Regions from separate parts of the Homo sapiens genome. Here all the other regions are linked to region 1. The links come from fine-mapping of genetic effects on gene expression. A gene starts in region 1. Each other region holds a variant in brackets. All regions are shown on one strand. Distances are between the middles of the regions.

Region 1 (2,669 bases):
GAAGGAAAACAAGTTGTGGGAGAAACATCACATTAAACTGTCAGGACAGGAAACCCTGGGAGTTGTGTGGTCTGCACCGCCCCACCCCTCTCCCCAAGACTAAGACCAAGCTACTAGATTTGGGGAGGGAATGAGGACACGGGAGGCGGGTGGAGTGCGTGCGGGGGTGGGAGAGTGGGTGTAGGTGTGGGGAGGTGATGTGCCCAAGCTAATTCCCCCAAGGCCTCTCTACTCCTTAAGCGCGTGGATGACCAAACACCAGGGCATGCCCAGGTAGCGCTGGCCTAAAGTTCTCGTTTTTATTTTCTTCTTCAGTAGTGAAATCACAGCTTCTTTACAAATGCCCAGAAGAATCCCAGGCGCTCTGCTTCTTGACGGAAGCGAGAGGGGCGCTTTTTAGCAGCTAGTGCTGGGCCCCACTGTGGCCAGGGCATCGAGGCAAACCCTGGCATTTTGGGGGTGAACGGACCCCGACTGGAGACGGGGGAAGTAGAGGGTGCCCGCGGAGATCTGAGCGCAGAGACCCTAGGAGGGCGGGTTCCAGATCCCATAAATGAGATAATTAACGGGATTTACAGCACTCCTAGGCGGGGCTCCTGCCCTTCTCCCATCCCACGCGCAGCCAGGAGCCGGGCGGCCCCGGGCACTCGCTGGGAGGCAGCTGCGATTAGCGCCCTAATCCCCAGCGCAGACCGCGCAGAGACCGGAGCGGGAGCGGGGCCGCGGCGGGAGCCCCCCACCGTCCCGGGCAGTCCAGACGGCCGGGGCAGCGTGGGAACTGGGACCTCGGGGACCCAGCGCGGCGGCTGTCAGCTCTGGGGTGAGGTCCGCGAGATCTGGGCGCGAGGGCGCGGGAGGGGTTGGTGGACACAGGCTGGGGAGGGCGACTTCGAGAGGGGAGTGAGTGACCCCGGCCCCCCAGGCCCTCCGCGCGCCGAGGGGCGACGCGAGCGCTAACGCCAGCCGCGGCCCGCGGTGCCCGCCCCGGGACCCCCGCGCTCCGAGCGGGGCACCTGAGGGGAGGGGACGCCCCTCCCGGGCTGGCAGGCGCCCTCCACCCCGAGGCTGCCGGGCTAGGCACCGCGCGGGGGGCCCAGGCGGGGCTGCGACTGGGGGTGCAGACATCCCCCACCGCCAGGGTGGCTGGAACCGGAGCGACGTCCCAGCTGGAGAAGTTGGGGGGAGTGCGGGAGGCTGCGGGTGAGGCCCGCGAAGCGCCGTGGGAGCGGCCCTAATGGACGGTGGGAGCCAGGAGGGTTAGACGCCGGGACTTACCGAGCGGCTCCCTCATGCCGCCTCGCGCCGCCACCGCCGCCGCTCCGGCCGGCCGGGGACCAGCGCGACCCGCCCCGCCTGCAGCCGCCGAGGCCGAGCATGCCCGGAGAACCGCCGTCCGCCCCGCCCACCGCCCGGGCCCGCCCCGCCCACCGCCCGGGGCTGCCTCCTCTGCGCTGAGGGCGGTATCCAGGCCACGAGCTTCCTAGGCTTTTGGGGTCCGCCTGCGTGGGTCGCGCAGAAGGCACAAGTGAGCTGACCACCATTCCCTCTTTTCTTGTCACTTGGGTTTGGGCCACGTCAACCCTGTGGAAATGTCCAAAGACACACACACTCTCACAGATACACAGAAAGCAAACATATTCATATCACACAAACACACAAAGATGTATGCAAACACACTCATATACACCCACACACAGATGCACACAAACACACTCACAGGAAACAGGCGCACACAAACACATATACAGGACACACAGGTGCACACACAGTCACAGACAAGTGCACACACACTCAAATACAGTCACACGCAGGTGCACACAAACACACCCATATACAGTCACGCACAGATGCAGCCAAACACACTGACACATATACATACATACATGGGAACACAGTATGGCTATACACACACACACACACACACACAAACGCACCCACATAACACATCGATATTATGAAGAGCAGAAAACAGTGATGGTGACAACAGCTTGGGATTTACTTCTTTCAAAAAAAAGTCTGAAGGAGTCTGGAAGCCACCTTCAGATCAGCTGGCCCATACTCTCCTGTGGCAGAGGAGGAAACTGATGACAGGAGCAGGATTTGCCTACAGGGCAGGGGTAGGAGGAGAGATAGGAGGAGGTCAGTGGGAGAGTTCAGACCAGAATGAACATTTGGGGTCATTTGGGTAACCCCAAACCCACTCCATATTTCTCTTACAGCGGGAAGGGGCAGAAAGATTAGACTGCTGCCTGGGTCTGCTCAGGGCGAACGTTTTCATAATTTTGGAAGGCAGACAGAAGACAAAAAATGTGAAATATTGCTGATGCATTGGGGAGAGACAGGGAATGTTAGTTAAGTCCACCCAGACAAAACATGGATGGCACAGCAGACTGGTGACCTTGCCAAATTAGTTTTCAGAAAACTACTTAGCCACATCATGATTTTAGGACTGTATTTGCTGTCGAAACACCAATAACTAACTTTTTTTGCTCTATTACCACATCTGAGCCCTTCCTATGTATTATTTCTTTTAATCCTCATCACAGTTTGATGATATGGGCACCACTTTACAGATGAGGAGTGGGCTCAGGGACGGGCACAGATGGCAAGCTGCAGAATCTAGCCCAAGACCCTCGCTCTGAACCACCAGAGCAAGGTCGTTTCTTTGT
Region 2 (2,669 bases), 630 kb after region 1:
AAGAGCTATGGTGGGATCTTTGTTTTGTCTTAACATTTTGTAATCTGCATCTCCATGCCCTGAGCCATTCATTGCCTAAAGATCCTTATCTCTAGCTGGGAGAAGAGCTCTTTTGGATAGTGCCACTGCCTGAACCGCCAGCAGGGGGAGCCATGGCAGCGGATTTGCCCGGCACCGGCCAAGATAGGGATGGATTTCTCCGGTTGCTTTGGAAACCAGCCTTCAGAGCCAGTCCTGTTTATTAGCTGCGGAGTTAACGGCCTCTTTGCTAATGAACTCCTCTGATGTCTCTTAAGCATCCTTCTAGTGAATGATGATTTCCCTCCCCACCCTGTGATACCAGATTTTATTTATCTTTAAATCTTTCAAGAAAGTTTAATTTCTCATGGATATAAACCCTTTGCAGTTCTGGCAATTGAAACAACTTTTAAAACTTTTAATGACATCATCAATCAAACATATATAAAATGAGAAGTACTTCTAGGATATTACCTAAAACTTGAGTTTTAAACCATTTAATTGTATTTTTATTAAATTTTTTATGCTATAATACTTCTCCCGTTCACAGGAGGAAGGGGCAGAATCATTCATTCATTTGGTTTTCCTTGTGATAGTGATTTGCATATCCTGTCGATGTTGTTCGTCCAGGGTTGCATTGTCATCTAAGTGGCAATGTCATCTAAGGATTTCACATTTATTACAAATGAGTACAGAGAACATTCACATCTCATTTTGGTTTTTTGTAAATGCACTAATTAGTTTTCTTTCCAATGCCTTCCACTTAGGTTAGGGAAGCAATACTCATCCTTCTCTTTACTAAGTTTTCTTCTTCTAGCTGGATACTTTCTCCATGCAGGAATTCCTCCCTTTCCCTTTCATGTGTCTCTCACCACTTTCCCTTTTAAAGATTCCCCACCCTGCTTCTCGGTAAATATACGAGGAAAAGCATTTCCTGTTTCTGCCCACACGGGAGATGGACTGGACCTTCCAAAACTTGTAGTCGGTACAGACCTGCCCTGCTCTGTGGTTTCTTCTGAAAGGTTGACCCTCCTTGGGTTACTGTCTGTGTCATGTCCCCAAGGCCACTGTCCCTCCCTCCCCTCAGCCTGGAGGAGAGCTCCAGTGTGGGGGGCCACTTGCTGGCAAGTGTGACACAGTTCATTCTGCAGATGGCACCAATGCACTCTCAGCTGCCCCCACCATCTCCAAAGGGCCTCAGAACTCACAGCTGCATTTGCTCAAGTCTACGTGTCATGGACATGTTTTCCCACATCTCCACCGTTCATTTTGGATTATCAGCTCGTCAGCCACTACAGTCCTTGGAAATAATAAAATCCTGTCTACATCTGCAGTTGGTTGTCCCACAGTCGTGGTACGTGTGAAATGTGTGTGTGTGTGCCTGCATGTGTGTAAATTCTTATATGTTGTGCCGTCTACCCTGGGACTCCTGGAGATCGGTCAGGGTCCCGGAGATTTCCAGAAGTGACCCTGAGATGCTCAGTAGCTCGTCTGTGTGTTCCACAGGTTTGGCGTCACCTACTGCCATAACCCCAGTAGCCTCA[G/C]CCATTTGCGGTAAAACAAGAGGCACCACACCCGTTTCCAAACCCCTGGAAGGTAAGTCGCCAAGGCCTCGGCCACGCCAAGCCTGATCAGAAGAGGCCTTAGTGATGCTGTCTCACTGACGGTTTCTGCTTGCCTAGATATCGAAGCCAGACCAGATACGCAGTTAGAATGGGACCTGAAGCTGGACAGGCTGGAAACCTTTCTAAGAAGACTGAATAACAAAAACATACCTACCGGAAGCCAGAAGGCTTTGCTCTCAGAATCTCTAAATCCTAATTCTGATTGCTTTTCTTCCTCAGCTAAATTGTTTTCTTTCTATTATGGCTTTCCTAATTCATACTGTAATCACCGCCTTTGTTGTTATCTTCAAAAAATGAAGTTTTGGTCAAGACCGATTAGACTATCAAGCCCTAATTCATTTGATAACATACTAAATTGGGGACTCCCAATATCACATTTGTTCTTGAATCTAAGCCCTTGGGATGCCATCCAATTGGAATTGTGAACTAAGTGATTTTGCTTATAACTCTGAAAGCAGATTATTATACATCAGCAAATCAACATGATCTTGGGCCTGGTGAACTTTAAATTGTATGTTATCAGTTTCCAATAAGGTAAAAGCTGACATTATTTCTTATAATCACAAACGATTTCTAAAGTAAAATTATGGCAAATGAATGTTGAACTAAATATTTCAATATACAAGTCAAAGAAATATGCAAAATAAAAGAGCAATATGCAGAAATTGCCTTTTATCTCTTGATTAAAATGTCCAATCCGGGAAACTTATCAAATACTAGGCACTGGGAGCCCCTACTATTGACAGTGACCACTAAAAGGTTAAAAATAATACAACCACCACTGAACAGAAATATAAAAGTATAATATAATCACTAAACTAGCTAAGCAGGGAATGCCAATCAGCAAAGCATTTATTACAAATGTGGAACAGTGATCTAGCCTGTGGGTTAGCAAGCGATGGCCACTGCCAAATCCAGCTGCCCACCTGCTTTGGTTTTTTGTTGTTGTTTGTTTTTTAGAGACAGTGTCTTGCTCTGTCACCCAGGCTAGACTGCAGTGGTGCCATCATAGCTCACTGCAGCCTT
Region 3 (2,669 bases), 120 kb after region 1:
TGGCTAACACGGTGAAACCCTGTCTCTACTAAAAATACAAAAAATTAGCTGGGTGTGGTGGCGGGCACGGTGGTGGACGCCTGTAGTCCCAGCTACTCAGGAGGCTGAGGCAGGAAAATGGCGTGAACCTGGGAGGCAGAGCTTGCAGTAAGCCGAGATTGCGCCACTGCACTCCAGCCTGGGCGACAGAGCAAGACTTCGTCTCAAAAAAATAAAAAAAATTACCTGGTGTGGTGACATGCACCTATAGTCCAGCTACTTAGGAGGCTGAGGGATGAGGATCTCTTGAGCTCAAGAGTTGGAGGCTGTAGGGAGCTATGATCAGGCCATCACACTCCAGCCTGGGTGAGAGTGAGATGCCATCTCTTAAAGAAAAAAAAAAGTTATCATGCCAGACTCCCTTGTTTCTTGGGATAAGTTTTCTCCCAAGAGATGCTTCCAATATTCACTAAAAAAAAAAAAAAAAAAAAAAGTTTCCAGGAAGACCTGCCTTATCAGGCCTCCCCACCCCAGGTAAGGGCTAAACCTCCACCCCTCCACTCGGCCCCAAGATGAGACCCCAGTCCAGGTGCATGTAGAGTAATGGGCTTGGGGTCAAGGTGCAGAAGGTTCTGGCACCAGTAGACAGCTGTACTGAAGTTTGGGGTCAGGATTGAGGCTGTGCAGGTTTCTCCACTGCCCAGGAGAGCTGGGTGTCTGCCCCCTCCATCCAGCGCGCCCAGCAGAGCTACAGGGACAGTGGCTTCGGATGAGCAACAGTCACCGAGGAATATGCTGAGCGAGTAGAGTCCAGGTCTGCATTCTGGAAGCTTAGGGTTAAGGGACTTAATAGGGCCAGTGCCTGGGACCTCTATACAACGCAGAATTGTGGAAAGCCTGCTTCCCACAGCAGGCTTCGGTGGTGACGGTTTTTTGTTGGGAAATCAGCAAGCCTCCTCTTTGCCTTTTTTGGAGACAGAGCAATCGGGCTTATGTGCTTGGGAAAGATGTGTTGGAGAATATGCTTTTCATTACATTACACAGAGGCAGACGAAGCTGAGGGTCAGGCCCAGGTCTCTGGAGCTGAGGCTTTAGTACCAATTTCCTCTGGAGGGGCGGCTGCCTGATGCACACTAC[T/C]TTCCCAAGAATTTGACACTGTAAGACTCAGGACACGGGAATGAGAGGCTTGGAGAGTCCCGATGTCATCTCTTCCATTGGCTTTTTTCTTCCCTTCCCTTTTGATCTTCCCGTCCCAGGCCCGCCGTTTGTTTTCCATTATCCAGCTTCCTGCTCTCATGTCCAGAGTCCCAGGGCTCCAGTGTCCTGGCCCCCATCGGTGCCAGGGCTGCCCAGAAGGCAGACAAATCAGAGGCGTCGTAGCCTGGCGTCTCCTCGCATGTCGAGGGCCGCTTTCACCATCTGCTTTCAATGAAGTGTGGGTTTCGGTACATATTATGGAAACAGAAATGGAAAAACCATCGGGGTCCCTCCTGCAAAAACAATCATTATCCACTGAAATGAGCTCTTAGGAACTTCCGGGTGGAGAGCACATCACTATTAATGAAGAAGAATTCAGACAGGAATTCTGGCCGGGCTGGACAGACAGGAGAGGGAAGAAGAAATGGAATGTTCTGACTCACCCGGCAGTTAAGAGGAGAGTCCCTTAATAGAGCAAACAGAACAGTCCTACAGCCGCGGCTGTGGAATCTGCTGCCAGCCTGGTTTCTCTCTGACTCAGAATGTGGCTTTCAGGGCTATGGTGCTGGGGAGGTGGGCTCCATCACCCGAGGAACACCTAGCCCGCGACAGAGGAGATACGAGCACAAAGGCTGGGAATGCCATCTGCACTAGCAGGACCTGGCCAGCCCGGGTCCGCCGGTGCCAGGGAGGGCTAGGCCTCAGAGCCAGACTCACACCAGCCTTCCTGGAGGAATTTGCCATCCTTCACTCTCCCTCGCCCTGTGTACCCCATGTGCTGAGGAGTTGCAGTGTGAAGACAGGAGCCTCAACAAGTCTGCAGTTTAGCGAGCAAGAAAAGGAAGCATCAAAGCTGCATCAAACTTAGTGAGGATGGGGAGAAAGAGGAGTTTCCACAATGCCCTTGGTATTTTCTCCTCCTGAGAGAAGAGCCAGCCAGCGCTGCCCATTCTAGAGAGTGATATATGCATGCATCCTATGTGTGATTGCAGGACTGGGGCATGGTGCATGTGTGTGTGTGTGCGTGTGTGTGTGTGTGTGTATCAAAAGCCCACTTTCCCTCCGGTCGCCCATGCCTGAAATTCTACACGTAAAGGCCATTCTCTTCTTCCCTCTTCAGACACCATCATCTCAAAGAGAATAATACTTTATGCTTTATCAGTAATTGGCATCATTGGGGAAATTCATTCATCAGACTCTCCTCTTCATGGGAGCAAAAAGGGCTGAAAATGAGAATGCCGAGTACTGGTATGGGACCATGCAGGAGAGAGAGATGTGCTGGGCTTCCCAGCTGTGCTCAGGGATCCACACCTGAGTCCCAGCCTCTGTGCGGTGAGGGAGAGCAGATGAGCAGGGAAGAATGTGTCCTCCCTCCTCCCAGAGACCACCAATTTCAAGTCAATGCTTTTCAGGGAACAGCGTCTGTTGATAGGTAGCTGGTTTCCAAATCTGGATTCCTCATAGATGGGTCTGGCTTGGGACCCCCTCATTTC

Direction of the effects. Alleles are on the strand shown, and positions count from the first base shown. SD is a standard deviation of normalised expression in the study named. Not every link is listed here.
As copies of T replace C in region 3, the expression in fibroblasts of the gene that starts at base 1,380 in region 1 goes up (moderate effect, 0.58 SD a copy in GTEx).

What was found. PIP is the estimated chance that this variant, and not a neighbour inherited with it, causes the effect.
Region 2: its variant is the best candidate, but not a certain one, in a credible set for the expression of JCAD in aorta (GTEx, PIP 0.77).
Region 3: its variant is the best candidate, but not a certain one, in a credible set for the expression of JCAD in fibroblasts (GTEx, PIP 0.75).

What each region holds. Positions count from the first base shown.
Region 1 is chr10:30,058,207-30,060,875 of GRCh38, forward strand. It overlaps JCAD (junctional cadherin 5 associated), which reads right to left and starts at 1,380. Exons shown (of 4, transcript NM_020848.4): 1 at 1,276-1,380. It overlaps LOC101929256 (a long non-coding RNA gene), which reads left to right and starts at 632. Exons shown (of 4, transcript XR_001747405.2): 1 at 632-820. RefSeq lists a silencer at 1,323-1,492.
Region 2 is chr10:30,687,715-30,690,383 of GRCh38, forward strand. No RefSeq gene overlaps it. Among named protein-coding and RNA genes, the nearest start is that of LINC02644, 34 kb to the right of the region's middle. RefSeq lists an enhancer at 1-326. The variant G/C (reference allele first, on the strand shown) is at 1,563.
Region 3 is chr10:30,181,339-30,184,007 of GRCh38, forward strand. No RefSeq gene overlaps it. Among named protein-coding and RNA genes, the nearest start is that of JCAD, 120 kb to the left of the region's middle. The variant T/C (reference allele first, on the strand shown) is at 1,117.